Linked DNA regions of Homo sapiens: regions 2 and 3 are each linked to region 1. The links come from fine-mapping of genetic effects on gene expression. A gene starts in region 1. Each other region holds a variant in brackets. All regions are shown on one strand. Distances are between the middles of the regions.

Region 1 (5,828 bases):
CCCATCTACACCCATGCAACTGTGGGACCTCTGCCCTTGGCTAGGAGAGCTTTTGGCACTGTGTCTTGCTGCTGGCGCCCAGACTCAATTTTCCTGCATCCGGCTTACTGTGTTTTCCTCTTCTAGTTCCTAAGTGGCTCTCCAGAACCTTGACTGGGTTTGTCTCTGGTCTACACTTCTCCTATCCCTCTCCTTCCCAATTTACTAGGTGAAAGGCACCCGGTACCCGCTTTGTAATGCACCCCTACTGCTCCCGACAACACCTCTCCACTGTCATGCTTAATTGTCTACATTTCATTTGTCAGAGGTCCGACGTTCACTTTTTAAAATGCAATGAATCATTAACATGCTAATAAGTGATTTAATATCTATTAATGAGGATTCGCAATATAAAACTGATTTAATGTCTCAACTCACTGCTTCCGTTTTCTCATAAAAGGAAACAGCTAAGTACTACCTAGGAGAAATGATACCCACGTGCATGCATCTTGCTCTTTCCTTTAATGCTTCCTGGGGTTCTATCTTTTCTCTTAGCAATGCACTGATACATTTATGGTGAGGCACAAGTAAGAAAGAGAAGAAAAAAGGAATCACCTTAGGAATCCTTGAGATAACCATATTTGCTTTGTTTTCAACTCCACACACAGCCTATTTCCTGCCCTGGGTTATTTTCCTCAGAGGAGCTGTGGAGATGACTAGACTTACACATAGGTCCACAGCTCCCACAAAGTCTTCACCAGCAAACCCTCCGAGTTCCTCACTCCCACAGCTCCCACAAAGTCTTCACCAGCAAACCCTCCGAGTTCCTCACTCTCATTCCTCTAGCACAAGTTGTGCAATAGCCTCATTTTTACATCTTGCCCCTGAAGAAGGGGGAAGAATTACACCTTGACAGTGACTCAAAAAAGACAGCAGATGCTGACGGGGTTCTTTTGATTAACAGGAGTTATAGAACTATGTCTAAATAGTTCCGATTTGATTTGAACATTATATTTTATCAGCAAATAACATGTGTTTCATTGTAGAAGTAACTAAAACAAAGCATGAAAACATGTGGTTCTACAATATTGGTTTTTTTGTTTTTTGTTTTTTGTTTTTTTGAGACAGGAGTCTCACTCTGTCACCCAGGCTGGAGTGCAGTGGAGTGATCTTGGCTCATTGTAACCTCTGTCTCCTGGGTTCAAGGAATTCTCCTGCCGCAGCCTCCCGAGTAGCTGGGATTACAGGCGCCCACCACCATGCCCAGCTCATTTTTTGTATTTTTAATAGAGATAGGGTTTCACCATGTTGGCCAGGCTGGTCTCAAACTCCTGACCTCAAGGGATCCTCCCACCTCGGCCTCCCAAAGTGCTGGGATTACAGGTGTGAGCCACTGTTCCCAGCCTGGTTCCCCAATATTCTTTTGGCTTGTTTAATTCTGAGTAAGAGAGTCCAAAATAGGGTTCAGGACATTCTTTTCCCGAGATATCCCCGGAGTGAAAATGAGTGTTGGATGATCACTATTTTGGGTACTAATTGTTTGACCAGTATTGAACAGCTGAGCTCCAGGGGTAGAAAGAGATCTAAGGCTTGTCCAGTGAGGATTCCCAAAGTAGTGGGGAAGCAGATACAAAAATCAGTTAAGTTGTGATAGAGTAGTAGGTGTTGCAATAAAGGTATACCCACAGAACAGAGAGGGCCGAGGCTAGGGAAGCTTGAGCAGGATTCAGACTTTCATTAGGCACAGAGGCGAGAGAGCAGCTCATGGCAAGGGCCCAGAAGCTGCCCACTGTTGTGTCTGGAATCTAGTGGGAAAGGGCAAAAGGAAGTCCTGGAGCAGCAGGTTGCGAGCAGGCCATTGTGCCAAGGAGTCTGGTCTTGATCCTATAGGTAGAAGGTGGCTGGTAGAGTTTAATCAGCAGAAGAAAAAGAAATGAGAATGGGAATGTGAGTTAGGTGACAATTGGATGAAGATGGAAGCCTCATGTCAGGAAACCAATTCTGCAGTGGTCTCCTGGCAGAAGGTGAGGCAGACCTGAACTGAGCCTACCTCGGTTAGTGGCCAAGTCTGCTTTAAATTCATCCCTTCTGCCAGATGGTTTTAAAAATGCATGAGCCCATTACTGAAAAACAGAACGTCTTCGAAGAGAAAGGCAGACCGGGAAGCCCTGAGTGAGAAGTACCCAGTGAAAGGAAGGGCGTTTATCAATCCTCTCTCTTTGAACTAAATTCATTAGTGAAATCTGAGAAACTTTGGAGCTTTAATGAATTTGAAACTGGTGTTTCCCTTTATCTGCATCTAGTCCATTTTTAATTTGCGGTCATCTATTAGCTGATGAAAAAAGAAAAATGTCTTTCAGCAGTTGAAGACAGCTAATGAGAATCAGGCTCTCAGTGTGGGCGGTACTGCTGATGTTTGGTTTGTGAGAGATACAGGAATCAACTTGTTGAAGCTCTCTACTTGTCAGAGCACCTTTAAATAATCCAAGCCCAGAGTTGTTTCATCTTCAGGCAAGAGAAAGTGAAAATGGCTTCAAAGGTACAATATCTCAAATAAACACTATAAAATGCATCCACACTTGCCTTTGAAATTGTAGTGGTTCAAGCACACAGAGACAAGCAACAATGTTTATTTCCTGATACTAATGAGCTTGTCTGTCTTTGTCTATGATGATTGTTCTTAGAGACAAACAAATAAAAATGCGAATTATATCTGACTGTTCTAAGAAGAAAAGATTGCCAGACTATTGTATTTTTTGGCAGTTATATGCTTCAAAAAACTGATCGTTTTCTCAATTCCTAGGAAGCGGGCAGAGAAATCACATTCCTGTGGACCAATGCTCCTTAGTGGATGAGTTTTGTGGCATGGTGGTGATTTAGTTAGTAAGAAGCCCTGCCTGTTTTCTGGAGAGTACTATACTTGTCGAACCAGCTCCTAGGACAGTACAGGGTTGTGACTGGTGTTTTGGGGTTCTCTCTGCGCATAAGCCCTTTCCTTTTAATACAAACAGCAAGATCATCCTGTTCAGCAGTTGACAGATGACTGTGTGCACCAAAAGGCAACAACGATGAGGCAACTGATGCATTTGTAACTCAATGTCTCACTGAATTCCAGCTTTCTTTTCTCAAGGTGGTGAAACAGGAAGCAACATCCCATCAGGAAGAACCTGAGGGTGCCATCCAGTAGCTTCGCCTCACGTCACTGACTGCCCTCAGTCAGAAATCTTGACTCGCAACTTTGGAGGGTGGGTCTCTGAAGGAATTTCAGGTCTTACACAGAGATGAGTTGTGCTGCTCTCTGAGGAGAACGAAGCTGGTTGGAACGTTGGAAGCTGCTCTCTGACTACACTTCACAAGCAAGGGGCACCTTTTGTGGACTGACATTTCAGAAAGGTAGGCGCCATCCCATGGATGTGGTTAGTATTTGAGGACTTTCAAAACCAAGGTGGCCGTGATTCCGCGTGTGAGCTTGTGTGTGTATGTGTGCCTGGGTGCGTAACAGAGAGGGAGAGGAGATGGAGATTGGGGGAGAGGCGGACAAATGAAGAAATGTTCATTTTTGGTCTGATGTTTGGGAGAAATACAGAAAAGACAGACTTGGGGCCCTTTGCTTTGTAGAGTTTTGCTTGGAAGTGTTTAGTAGTAGAGGGTAAATTTCGAGTCCAAACTTCCACTCCTGACCTGCATTGCTCTCGGGCGAGTTTAAACTGATTCATTGAGGGTTAGGAAGAAAGGTCTGGGCAGTGAAATCACACACGGCTGAATGCTCAGCATAGCTTGGTTTATCAGGAAAGCCCTGAATCCAGGTGGAATGAAAGGGGTCAGCACAGATCTTTGCCAGGTGGCAAAGGCCATTTCAGACCATCCCAGAGTGCCTTAAGCTGAGAACAAGGTGGGACTTGCTCACCCCACAGTGGCAGGCCTTCCTAAGCTGCTTCTGTCTTGAGAGATGTAGTGCTCAATGTCATGCCAGGAGAAATTAGCTGTTCGGTTCTAAGGCTGCCAGTCTCATGCAGAAAAGTGAAACAAAATCAAACTACTTTTTCTGATCCAAGCAAATGTTTAGCAAGAATGTTCTGTTAAGCATTTTTATTTTTTTGAAACCTTTACACAAAACAAGGGAAATAAAGCTTTAGGGCTGACCAGATAATGAATTTTAATTTATTCATTAACCCACAATGTTCAAGTGCCTTCTCTACCTTAAGTGAGTGTTTGACTTTAAACTTCACATTTTCATTGCCTTCCCCCCTACAAGCCTTTTGTTTTTCTTAAAAGGGGTTTCCATTTATAATTTCTTCAGTAGAATTTCTGGATAAAAAGTTCTTTAAAGAGAAAATATGTATATGTTCAAAAAGGTAATAATTATGTGGCCCTCTCATTCACAATATTTCTGCCTTTTTCTAAAATATCAATCAAATTGATTTACATAAGTTTGAAGATCATTCTGGGCTAATAATAATCTACATTTACTAAGTCCTTGCTGTGTGTACGTGCATTTTCCCCTTTAGGGCTCATGATACGCCACTTTCAGACGAGGAATTGAGGCTTAGTGAGATTTACAGTGGTACAGTAGGGATGTGAGAAAGCCACAGCTTTATTGCATTTCTGCACACTAAGATATATGATTTCAGCTCATTCTATATTCCCATTCTATTCCATTAACCCCCTACAGGGTCCTTGTGTGGAGGGATTCCTGAAGCTATGATAATATTCAAATACTCGAATTTGGTGTCTTATAACAAAAGGCCAAAATCAATCAATCAATCTATCACCTGCTTCTGCTGTTGGAGGAAGGCTTGGTGTGGTGGACAGAACATTGACTAGAAAGACAGATCAAAATTCAAATTCCTGCATCCTGCTTACTAACTATGACCCTGGCAAGTCACTGAAATTCCTTTTTTATTTTTTTGAGATGGAGTCTTGCTCTGTCACTGAGGCTGCAGTGCAGTGGCATGATCTTGGCTCTCTGAAACCTCTGCCTCCTGGGTTCAAGCGATTCTCGTGCCTCAGCCTCCCAAGTAGCTGGGAGTATAGGCATGTGACACCACACCTAGCTAATTTTTTTGTAGTTTTAGTAGAGATGGGGGTTTCGCCATGTTGGTCAGTCTAGTCTCGATCTCCTGGCCTCAAGTGATCTGCCCACCTCAGCCTCCCAATGTACTAGGATTCCAGGCATAACCCACCACACCTGGCCTCAGTGCAATTCTTCAAATCTCAGTTTCCTTATTTATAAAATAATTATTATAACATCCATCAAACGAGGTTGTTTATTATAAGACATAAAAAGGCAGGGTATGTCAAATGCCTTCCATAGGACCTGACAGAGGGTAGGCCCTTGGTAAACAGTATTCATTTCCCCATTTTGCAGTGATTTCTTCATGCTCTTGACATGTTGGATCCTGTTCTAGGATTGGGGGTATCACCAGTGAACAAAGCAGACAAGTCCCTGCCCTCAGGGAGTTGCCTTTCCACTGGTACTTGTTCCTTATATCCTAGTGTACTTTCTTGGGAAATCACTTTGTGATTATCTTTCTTTGTGGAGCTGATCCAGCTTTCAAACAGCCTCTTAAAGTAATGAATGTCCTATGCCAAAAGTCCCCCAAAGCATAGTAAAATCAAGCAAAAAGCAAGAACATCAGATACTTCTTTTTCAAAAGTCAGTTTGTTGTGGTAGGCCAGGAAAGTTGTTTTTACACACACACACACACACACACACACACACACACAGTTTATGTAGGTTTTCCCTGGCCTCCACACCACAGCAGAAGCACTGCCAGGAGCTGGCAGAGTGCTCATGGGAGGAGGGTGCTGGGCTGGCTCCAAGGGAGCTCCCTCCGCTCACAGAGCAC
Region 2 (5,828 bases), 21 kb before region 1:
ATTGTGTGTGTGTGTGTGTGTGTGTGCATGCGCGCGCCTGTGTGTATATATAGAAGTCATTATGGCAGATCCACAGAAATTGTGCAATGATGTAAATGTTCATACTTCACAGAGCCTATAATTTTTATTTTTCAATTTGTTTTTTCAAAAATCTCTTCTCTTGGGGACAACATCTGAAGGGTCTGTTGCATGGATTTAAAAAAATCATCTCACATGCATTTTTTAGTTTGGGTGAAGAAAACATCATGGGGAGGTCCATCTTCAGTATCTTTAGTGCTTCCTACCTGGTAACTTGAGACTTTAAAAGAAGAAACAAAGAGAAGAAGATATGGGAGTGAATTTATTCCAAGAATCTACAATGACATTGAAGTTGTTGGAGGAATATACTGTATTTAAAAAACCTGTGTCACATTCAAAAATTTCATCTAAGCTGGGCGCAGTGGCTTGTTCCTGTAGTCCCAGCACTTCAGGAGGCTGAGGTGGGTGGATTGCTTGAGCCCAGGAGTTGGAGACCAGTCTGGGAAACATGGTGAGATGTCATCTCTCTACAAAATACAAAAAAATTAGCCGGGCATGGTGGCGCTTGCCTATAGTCTCAGCTACTCGGGAGGCTGAAATGAGAGGATCACTTGAGCCCGGGGAGGTCCAGGCCGCAGTGATCCGAGATCACACCACTGCACTCCAGCCTGGGTGACAGAGTGAGACCCTGTCTAAATTAAAAAAAAAAAAAAGGCAATGGCTTTGTGCTTTTGAAGGTGGAATGAAAGGTGGAATGAAGACACATCCACCTTAAGGCTTTAAAAGACCATGAAGCTGGGTGCAGTGGCTCACTCCTGTAATCCTAGGATTTGGGGAAGCCAAGGCAGGAGGATTGCTTGAGCCTAGGAGTTTGAGACCAGCCTGGGCAGCATAGCAAGACCCCATCTCTATAAAAGGAAAAAAATGTTAAAACACAGTGAAACTGCAGAAACAGAACATAGCCACCCTTTTTCATTAATGACCTTTTCTTCACGTGGTGGTCAACTCAGCAGGTGAGAATAATTAGTAGGTTCAGTAGAATAAAGTCTTTACAATTAATAACTTAGTGGAAAATGATGTTCAGATGATGAAATGTGGAAATGTTTTAGACAGCTGTATTTTCAGCCTGTGTGTCTCAGTCACCATCCTGTTGGGATTAACAGTTGAGGGCCATCATTTTCTAAACATTTCACATGCAGTTTCCCATAATTTTTACCGTGAATGTGAAAAGGTGAAACTGGTGCTGACTTCAGCGGCAGGTATACTAAAATTAGAATGACACAGAGGAGATTAGCATGGCCCCCTGTGCAAGGAAGATCCAGATTCATGCCGCATTCCATATTTTTTTTTAAAAAAGGTTACACTGTGCACCGAGATGTGCAGCTAGAAGGAAGAGCATGAAGTCTCGTGTTTGCTGACTATAAAAATAAATCATAGTAATAATATTGTTGAAAATTCTGCTTTAAAAATTATTAATAAAACCATAAATGAAACACTATTCTTGAGCACACTTTAAAAAGTACATAGACCCATAAGTCCATGTACTAAAAAATGCCTATTTTTAGGTTGCCTGTTTTGTAATCCAGGATTTCATACTGAGATGAAAATTAGCATCAGGAAAAGCCTGAAATGCCTTGCCTTAATTGTGAACAGATACTGGGGAACCTGCCCCGATATTCACGTAGGTTCTTTTCTGTTTTCCTTAAGCATCGGCCAGCTTGAGAAATAAAGGGACAGAGTACAAAAGAGAGAAATTTTAAAGCTGAGCGTCCGGGGGAGACATCACATGTCGGTAGGTTCCGTGATGCCCCACAAGCCACAAAAACCAGCAAGTTTTTATTAGGGATTTTCAAAAGGGGAGGGAGTGTGCGAATAGGTGTGGGTCACAGACATCAAGTACTTCAGAAGGTAATAGAATATCACAAGGCAAGTGGAGGCAGGGTGAGATCACAGGACCACAGGACCGAGGCGAAATTAAAATTGCTAATGAAGTTTCGGGCACCATTGTCATTGATAACATCTTATCAGGAGACAGGGTTTTTGAGATCAACCGGTCTGACCAAAATTTATTAGGCGGGAATTTCCTCTTCCTAATAAGCCTGGGAGCGCTATGGGAGACTGAGGTCTATTTCACCCCTGCAGTCTTGACCATAAGAGATGACCACGCCCAGGGGGGCCAGTTCAGAGACCCACCCCCAGGCGCACATTCTCTTTCTCAGGGATGTTCCTTGCTGAGAAAAATAATTCAGCGATATTTCTCCCATTTGCTTTTGAAAGAAGAGAAATATGGCTCTGTTCCGCCTGGCTCACCGGCAGTCAGAGTTTAAGGCTATCTCTCTTATTCCCTGAACAATTGCTGTTATCCTG[T/C]TCTTTTTTCAAGGTACCCAGATTTCATACTGCTCAAACACACATGCTGTACAATTTGTGCAGTTAATGCAATTATTACAGGGTCCTGAGGTGACATACATCTTCGTCAGCTGACAGGATTAAGAGATTAAAGACAGGCATAGGAAATCACAAGAGTATTGATTGGGGAAGTGATAAGTGTCCATGAAATCTTTACAATTTATGTTTAGAGATTGCAGTAAAGACAGGCATAAGAAATTACAAAAGTATTAATTTGGGGAACTAATAAACGTCCATGAAATCTTCACAATCCACGTTCTTCTGCCATGGCTTCAGCCGGTCCCTCCGTTTGGGGTCCCTGACTTCCCGCAACAAACAGATATGCATGAAAATGAAATATGCAAAGCACATTGATGACCTTGTTCTTTACGGACATTGTAATCAGCCTCTAGCCATACAGAACAAATGAGAAATTAGAAGCACTTCCAAGAACGTGTGATGGTGTGAAACCCACTTTTGACCATCATGCACATTTCAACATTTGAAGTGAGACAGGCTACCTGGTAACTGCCCCATGGCGGGGTCATAGTTTAAATGGCCCAATGTCCTGTAGAGGTTAATTTAATCAAAATGAGCTATAAACATAGAACAATCACTATGTATAATTTTAAAATAGTTTACCTGGCCCGTCATGGTGGCTCACGCCTGTGATCCCAGCACTTTGGGAGGCCGAGGTGGGCAGATCACCCACGGTTGGGAGTTCGAGACCAGCCTGGCCCGCATGGCGAAACCCCCATCTCTACTAAAACTACAAAAATTAGGCATGCTGGTGGGTGCCTGTGGCCCCAGCTGCTCAGGAGGCTGAGGCAGGAGAATCGCTTGGATTCGGGAGGCGGAGGCTGCAATGAGCCAGGATTGTGCCTCTGCACTCTAGCCTGGGTGACAGGGCAAGACTCCATCTCAAAAAATAAAAATAAAAATAGTTTATCTGGGTGGGCATTCCAAAATTTCCGCATAGATGATCACGTGAAACAATCACTGTGCTAAATGTGGAGGAAAATTCATCACGATAATCACAAAATTTGTATCAGAAAAAAATTACAAATGTACTTTGTTTCATGTAATTTTATGAGTTGGAAGTATTTTCTTAAATTGGAACACTATAAGATAATATCTTTAGGAAATGGATATGCCACAATAGGAAGTATAGTGGGGCAAGTCTTGTTTTTCTCAAGGGAAAAGCCACCAGCCTGCTTTCATAGGCATTGATAAAACCAGGAAGAAAATAAAGTCACAACCAAATAGTATACACTGTCTCTACTGAATTCTTCTAATTCCTTCCCAACAGAAGTCTAAATCCTGCTTAGCCTAAACATATCTATAGCCAGCGATGGGCAAATTATATTTGCTGTCAGCATGATAGAATAAGAATCAGAAACCCCCCAGCAGTGGGGTAAGATCGTGCACTTCATCCCCTCAAAATGCTGTCAACCCCATTCCCTCTCCATGCCCTCAAACAACTGCACAGTCACTTGTTAGTGAATTTCTCGTTCAGCGTTTTGTTTTTTTCTCTCCATACTTAAAGACCAAATCATTTGTTTGCTCTGAAGAAAAAGAAAAAACAAAACAAAACAAAAAACCACCCACCAAATCATTTGAAATCACTACCCGTTAAAAAAAATCACCAGTGGAACTAAACAGTTGAGTGGTTTGGGATGTGTTCGCCATTTCTGTGTTTGACCTACATGGCCTCTAGTTCTTTGGACCACTGTAACTGTGAAACCATGGCTTAATACTGTTAAAGACCCCAAGGCTCAACTCTGTAGCCAGGGTGTACCTCAGGCTGCACAAATATCACACCAGAATGTCACAATCATTCATTGCTCCAGCTACTGAGTGAACAGGGTGCAAGACAGCACTGGCTTGGGTTGTATTTTTGCAGCCAGTTAACTTTGCATCAGGTCTACACAGTCCTTGCAGCCTTTGATTTCTCCAGTTGTAGAGATTTGAAATGGGGTGCCCGGGTTCCTCTCGTTTTTCCTTCAACCTACCTAGCATGCATTTTACACACATTGGAGGAGTCTTATGCACTGTTTTTCTCTGTTGCTGATGGAGGCAAGAAGGCCTTCTAATTAGTCTAACTTAAACGGACGGGATTCACCTAACAAAAGCAAGAAGAAAAGCACAAGAACAGGTGTCTTAATGCATTTGGATAATTTATTTGGGGTGTGTGCGTGTGTGTGTGTGTCTTGGTGGAGGTGGGGGCCGTGTTCTCACCAAGCCTTTTCATAATCAAGTTTGCTTTGCAAACTTTATGGCCTTACACCCAGCAGAACAGTCCTTGCTAATAAAAGGAGGATGCCCTGTCACAGTTCTCTGTAAATTATCATGTGTTGGGAAGTTCTGTTGATGCTTAGTTTGATCTTCCATGGTGGACACATCTGTTCTGTATGTACAAGGCATTACATGTGTGTTTTAGCGGATGGGAATTGAAGCCTTTCCACAGTCCTTGTGCTCTGAGATGGCTGTTGAGCTCTGCTCAGCTGTCGTAGCTGAATTCTTTTTTTGTGCTGAACACTGGGCAGCCTCACCATGTTGTCAATGTGCTTCTGGGGCCCCTGTGACTGCTGCCAGATGCCATGCACACAAGCAGAGTGCCTTTGCAGGTTTGTGCACCCCTTGGCGAGCTGGAACTGGGAGCCCTGTGGGGTGATCTCGCCTTCTCATGGGGGGTCGGGGAGGGGAGTGCCTATTTTTAATCTTGTCTGTTTGTTGCACCATGGAAATCACTGTGATTTGTATATATGCCCTAGGAAATTTTTACTGCAGTCTAATTTATGTAATAATGTTGATTCCAGGTTTGTTTAATAAAGCTTTGTATCTTTTAAGAAAAAAAAAACTGTAGCATGTAGAGGAAAGTGCACTGGGATAATCCAAGGCCAGGCTTTGAGGTTCCACCGCTACATTATGTGACTCTTAGTCTAAACCTTTTGGTGTAATTTCTTTGGTCTGATTATTTATAAGTAGCAGATAATAAATGAATTTTATACTACAAACACAAGTGACAAGCTTTTGCCTCTTCTTCCTTTTTATTAAAGTAAAACATACATAGGTGTAACCTCTTAAATAATTTTTCTTGTCATAAATTACATATTTGTCATTTTATTGTAGTGTTTCCTTTGTTTTCTTTTGGGTTGCATATGGATTGTTAGTGATTTGTATTTCTCTCTTATAGTTATTTGGAAAATATATCTGCTTTAAATCATTGCCTTTCTTTTTTTTGAAACCAAGTCTCACTCTGTCACCCAGGCTGGAGTGCAGTAGCACAATCTCAGCTCACTGCAGCCTCCACCTCCTGGGTTCAAACAATTCAGTCTCAGCCACCTGAGTAGCTGGGATTACAGACGTGCACCACCACACCCAGCTAACTTTTGTATCTTTAGTAGAGACAGGGTTTCACCATG
Region 3 (5,828 bases), 29 kb before region 1:
TGCCTCAGCCTCCCAAGTAGCTGAGATTACAGGCACACACCACTGTCCCAGCAGTTCTCTGATATTTAGAAGCATTGAGATATGGAATGTGATCTGCCTGTGATTTTCTTTCCAGTGAGAATGGCTCAGGTGTTTGCTGTTTGGTAGAGCCTACCCAATCATTGAAGGCAGTAGAGTTGAAGCATGGTTTTACCTGAAAAATGTGCAATGGCACTATCCTGGCTCACCACAACCTCCACCTCCTGGGTTCAAGCAATTCTCCTGCCTCTGCCTACCAAGCAGCTGGTATTACAGGCATGCACCACCACACCCAGCTAATTTTGTATTTTTAGTAGAGACAGGGTTTCTTAGTGTTGGTCAGGCTGGTCTCTAACTCCTGACCTCAGGTGATCTGCCCACCTAGGCCTCCCAAAGTGCTGGGATTACAGGCATGAGCCACTGTGCCTGGCCATCTGAAAAGCACTTTCTATGCTTATATTGGCAGCACATATACTAAAATTGGAATGATACAGAGAAGATTAGCATGGCCCCTGCTCAAGGATGACATGTAAATTTATGAAGCATTTCATATTTTGTAACTTTAAAAAAAAAAAAAGGCACTTTCTAGGGGTGGCAATCAGAATGTCTGTGTGTTTTTTAAGTGCCTCAAGCCTCCTGTCAGACTCATTTCTCCCTTTGAGGCCTGTGAAGTAAGCACCCCAGAAGCACACTTATAATTGCTGATGACATCTTTTTAAGCTATTCAATAAATTATGAGGAAGTGCAGGTTTCCCCACAGCTAAACTTCTTTTATTTGCTAAGGACCATATATTGTCCATCTCCAAATCAACAGATATTTGTTTTTCTGCAAAACACAAAAGACTACTTGTGTAAAACAGAATTGGATTTTTAACTGTCAGTTTTCCTGAAAATTATCTTTTAATTTTTTTTCTGATTGTGCTATTTTTCTCCACAATAAAGAGAAAGGGTTCCCCTGACTCACTGGACTATTGACAAGTACATCATTTTTGTATCGCATAGCATTTTTTTTTTTTTTGAGATGGCATCTCATTCTGTTGCCCAGACTGGAGTGCAGTGGTGCAATCTTGGCTCACTGCAATCTCCACCTCCTGGGTTCAAGTAATTCTCCTGCCTCAGCCTCCCAAGTAGCTAGGATTACAAGCGTGCACCACCATGTCCGGGTATTTTTTTTTTTTGTATTTTTAGTAGAAATGGGGTTTCACTGTGTTGGCCAGGCTGGTCTCAAACCCCTGACCTCAATTGATCCACCCCCCTTGGCCTCCCAAAGTGCTGGCATTACAGGCGTGAGCCACCACGCGTGGCTCACATAGCATTCTTTGCTTGAATATAGCATATGCCCTCTTGATTGTGTGTCATTTTTAATATGTACAATAAACAATTTGACGATTACATGGAAGGGAAAATGGGTGACGAAAATAAAATTAATTGGCAACAGCCTTTCCACCATACAAGTGAGTTTTATTACAAATTGGTAATAGAATCAGGGTAACATTTGGGGGTGATCACAAATAGCTGAGTCTTGGAAAGGGCTGTATGGACAGAAGGCATGTCAGCGCAGCTTCACCTGGGGATTTGGAAACAGGGCTCAACAGCTCTCTACACTTCCTGGATTGGTAAGAACAGAGAAGAAGCCACCAGGATTTCATCAGAGGCTTTTTTTTTAAACAGCATAGTAAGAAGTAAATAAATAGTACTGCTTATTTTGTTACTCAATAGTCTGCTGTGGAGGATGGCCAAGGCCTGCCTCTAGTGAAGATGTGTCATTCCAGTTGTTATAGGCCAATGGTGACATACCCAATGTGGGAGGCTGGATTCACAAACACAGCAGCATGCCATTTGGAATAGTGATATGTAGAACAGACGATGCTGGGATGCTTAGGCAGTCCAAATTGTCCACCTTCACTGTGCTACTTGAGTTGTGAATCAGCTGGTAAAAAACAAACAAAAACACCGTAGAGCACGCTGGCGGCTACCAAGCTGGAGGAGGCGGCGGGCGCGAGACTGGGAATGCGCAGGGCCCCCTCCCTGCCCCCACAGCCTGGGCCACGGGCCCCATCTTCCCCGCTGCTGCGCGGCACTCAGTGCCCACCCCCCGACGAGGCCGGCAGCTGCTCCCACCCGGGGGCGTTGTCAGCTGCGCCGGGCCGCGCGCTGGGAGGCGAGGGCACGCATGGGGAGCCTCCGTTGATGCCACCACCACGCCGCCCTCCGAGGCTGCGTCCCGGGAAGCCCGGCTACCCGAGCGCTCCGGCCTGGCCCGGTGCCCCGGACCTGAGTGTGTCCGCATGGAGGAGCCCCGACTGGCCCAGGCGGCCGTGGCGGAGAGCGACCCCCGAGAGGTGTGGGAGGAGACCCCCGGCTGGGCACCCGCATTCTGCCCCAGCCCCAAGGCCTGGTCGCC[G/A]GAGCCGCCTGCCCACCGCCTGCAGGACTTCGACACACTGGCCACCGTGGGCACTGGGACGTTCGGGCGGGTGCACCCGGTGAAGGAGAAGACCGCCAAGCATTTCTTCGCCCTCAAGTTGATGAGCATTCCTGATGTCATCCGCCTGGCAGGAGCAGCACGTGCACATTGAGAGGTGTGTCCGGAAGGAATCATCCGCCCGTCCCTCATCTGCGTCCGGAAGGAATCCCTTCCTCATCTGCGTCCGGAAGGAAGTCATCCGCCCGTCGCTCATCTGCGTCCGGAAGGAAGTCATCCGCCCGTCCCTCATCTGCGTCCGGAAGGAAGTCATCCGCCCGTCCCTCATCTGCGTCCGGAAGGAAGTCATCCGCCCGTCGCTCATCTGCGTCCGGAAGGAAGTCATCCGCCCGTCCCTCATCTGCGTCCGGAAGGAAGTCATCCGCCCGTCCCTCATCTGCGTCCCGAAGGAATCATCCGCCCGTCCCTCATCTGCGTCCGGAAGGAAGTCATCCGCCCGTCCCTCATCTGTGTCCGGAAGGAAGTCATCAGCCCGTCCCTCATCTGCGTCCGGAAGGAAGTCATCCGCCCGTCCCTCATCTGCGTCCGGAAGGAAGTCATCCGCCCGTCCCTCATCTGCGTCTGGAAGGAAGTCATCTGCTCGTTCCTCATCTGCGTCCGGAAGGAAGTCATCTGCTCGTTCCTCATCTGCGTCCGGAAGGAAGTCATCCGCCCATCCCTCATCTGCGTCTGGAAGGAAGTCATCCACCCGTCGCTCATCTGCGTCCGGAAGGAAGTCATCCGCCCGTCCCTCATCTGCGTCCGGAAGGAATCATCCGCCCGTCCCTCATCTGCGTCTGGAAGGAAGTCATCCGCCCGTCCCTCATCTGCGTCCTGAAGGAAGTCATCCGCCCTTTCCTCATCTGCGTCTGGAAGGAAGTCATCCGCCCGTTCCTCATCTGCGTCCTGAAGGAATCATCCACCCGTTCCTCATCGGCGTCCCGAAGGAAGTCATCCGCCCGTCCCTCATCTGCGTCCGGAAGGAATCATCCGCCCGTCCCTCATCTGCGTCTGGAAGGAAGTCATCCGCCCGTCCCTCATCTGCGTCTGGAAGGAAGTCATCCGCCCGTCCCTCATCTGCGTCCTGAAGGAATCATCCGCCCGTCCCTCATCTGCGTCTGGAAGGAAGTCATCCGCCCGTCCCTCATCTGCGTCTGGAAGGAAGTCATCCGCCCGTCCCTCATCTGCGTCTGGAAGGAAGTCATCCACCCGTCCCTCATCTGCGTCCTGAAGGAATCATCCACCCGTTCCTCATCGGCGTCCCGAAGGAAGTCATCCGCCCGTTCCTCATCTGCGTCCTGAAGGAATCATCCACCCGTTCCTCATCGGCGTCCCGAAGGAAGTCATCCACCCGTTCCTCATCTGCGTCTGGAAGGAAGTCATCCACCCGTCCCTCATCTGCGTCCTGAAGGAATCATCCGCCCGTCCCTCATCTGCGTCTGGAAGGAAGTCATCCGCCCGTCCCTCATCTGCGTCTGGAAGGAAGTCATCCGCCCGTCCCTCATCTGCGTCCTGAAGGAATCATCCGCCCGTCCCTCATCTGCGTCTGGAAGGAAGTCATCCGCCCGTCCCTCATCTGCGTCTGGAAGGAAGTCATCCGCCCGTCCCTCATCTGCGTCTGGAAGGAAGTCATCCACCCGTCCCTCATCTGCGTCCTGAAGGAATCATCCACCCGTTCCTCATCGGCGTCCCGAAGGAAGTCATCCGCCCGTTCCTCATCTGCGTCCTGAAGGAATCATCCACCCGTTCCTCATCGGCGTCCCGAAGGAAGTCATTCGCCCGTTCCTCATCTGCGTCCTGAAGGAATCATCCACCCGTTCCTCATCGGCGTCCCGAAGGAAGTCATCCGCCCGTTCCTCATCTGCGTCTGGAAGGAAGTCATCCACCCGTCCCTCATCTGCGTCCTGAAGGAATCATCCGCCCGTCCCTCATCTGCGTCTGGAAGGAAGTCATCCACCCGTCCCTCATCTGCGTCTGGAAGGAAGTCATCCGCCCGTCCCTCATCTGCGTCCGGAAGGAAGTCATCCACCCGTCCCTCATCTGCGTCCGGAAGGAGGTCATCCGCCCGTTCCTCATCTGCGTCTGGAAGGAATCATCCACCCGTCCCTCATCTGCGTCCGAAGGAAGTCATCCGCCCGTCCCTCATCTGCGTCCGGAAGGAGGTCATCCGCCCGTTCCTCATCTGCGTCCTGAAGGAGGTCATCCGCCCGTTCCTCATCTGCGTCTGGAAGGAAATCATCCGCCCGTTCCTCATCTGCGTCCGAAGGAAGTCATCCACCCGTCCCTCATCTGCGTCCGGAAGGAAGTCATCCGCCCGTCCCTCATCTGCGTCCTGAAGGAAGTCATCCGCCCGTTCCTCATCTGCGTCTGGAAGGAAGTCATCCGCCCGTCCCTCATCTGCGTCCTGAAGGAATCATCCACCCGTCCCTCATCTGCGTCCGGAAGGAATCATCCACCCCTCCCTCATCTGCGTCCGGAAGGAGGTCATCCGCCCGTTCCTCATCTGCGTCCAGAAGGAATCATCCACCCGTCCCTCATCTGCGTCCAGAAGGAAGTCATCCACCCGTCCCTCATCTGCGTCCGGAAGGAAGTCATCCACCCGTCCCTCATCTGCGTCCTGAAGGAAGTCATCCGCCCGTTCCTCATCTGCGTCTGGAAGGAAGTCATCCGCCCGTCCCTCATCTGCGTCCGGAAGGAATCATCCGCCCGTCCCTCATCTGCGTCTGGAACGAAGTCATCCGCCCGTCCCTCATCTGCGTCCTGAAGGAATCATCCACCCCTCCCTCATCTGCGTCTGGAAGGAAGTCATCCGCCCGTCCCTCATCTGCGTCCTGAAGGAATCATCCACCCGTTCCTCATCGGCGTCCCGAAGGAAGTCATCCGCCCGTCCCTCATCTGCGTCTGGAAGGAAGTCATCCGCCCGTCCCTCATCGGCATCCTGAAGGAATCATCCACCCGTTCCTCATCGGCGTCCCGAAGGAAGTCATCCGCCCGTCCCTCATCTGCGTCTGGAAGGAAGTCATCCGCCCGTCCCTCATCTGCGTCCGGAAGGAAGTCATCCGCCCGTCCCTCATCTGCGTCCTGAAGGAAGTCATCCGCCCGTCCCTCATCTGCGTCTGGAAGGAATCATCCACCCGTCCCTCATCTGCGTCTGGAAGGAAGTCATCCACCCGTCCCTCATCTGCGTCCTGAAGGAATCATCCACCCGTCCCTCATCTGCGTCTGGAAGGAAGTCATCCGCCCGTCCCTCATCTGCGTCTGGAAGGAAGTCATCCGCCCGTCCCTCATCTGCGTCCGGAAGGAGGTCATCCGCCCGTCCCTCATCTGCGTCCTGAAGGAATCATCCACC

Evidence for each region. PIP is the estimated chance that this variant, and not a neighbour inherited with it, causes the effect.
Region 2: its variant is the best candidate, but not a certain one, in a credible set for the expression of CERS3 in whole blood (TOPMed, PIP 0.72).
Region 3: its variant is the best candidate, but not a certain one, in a credible set for the expression of CERS3 in whole blood (TOPMed, PIP 0.55).

What each region holds. Positions count from the first base shown.
Region 1 is chr15:100,526,357-100,532,184 of GRCh38, reverse strand. It overlaps CERS3 (ceramide synthase 3), which reads left to right and starts at 3,235. Exons shown (of 12, transcript NM_001378789.1): 1 at 3,235-3,372.
Region 2 is chr15:100,547,356-100,553,183 of GRCh38, reverse strand. It overlaps the pseudogene PRKXP1 and the pseudogene RNU6-322P. Among named protein-coding and RNA genes, the nearest start is that of CERS3, 21 kb to the right of the region's middle. The variant T/C (reference allele first, on the strand shown) is at 2,386.
Region 3 is chr15:100,555,433-100,561,260 of GRCh38, reverse strand. LOC102723335 (a long non-coding RNA gene) reads right to left here and starts at 2,595. Exons shown (of 3, transcript NR_135693.1): 1 at 2,439-2,595; 2 at 1,816-1,948; 3 at 1,462-1,626. It also overlaps the pseudogene PRKXP1 and the pseudogene RNU6-181P. The variant G/A (reference allele first, on the strand shown) is at 2,423.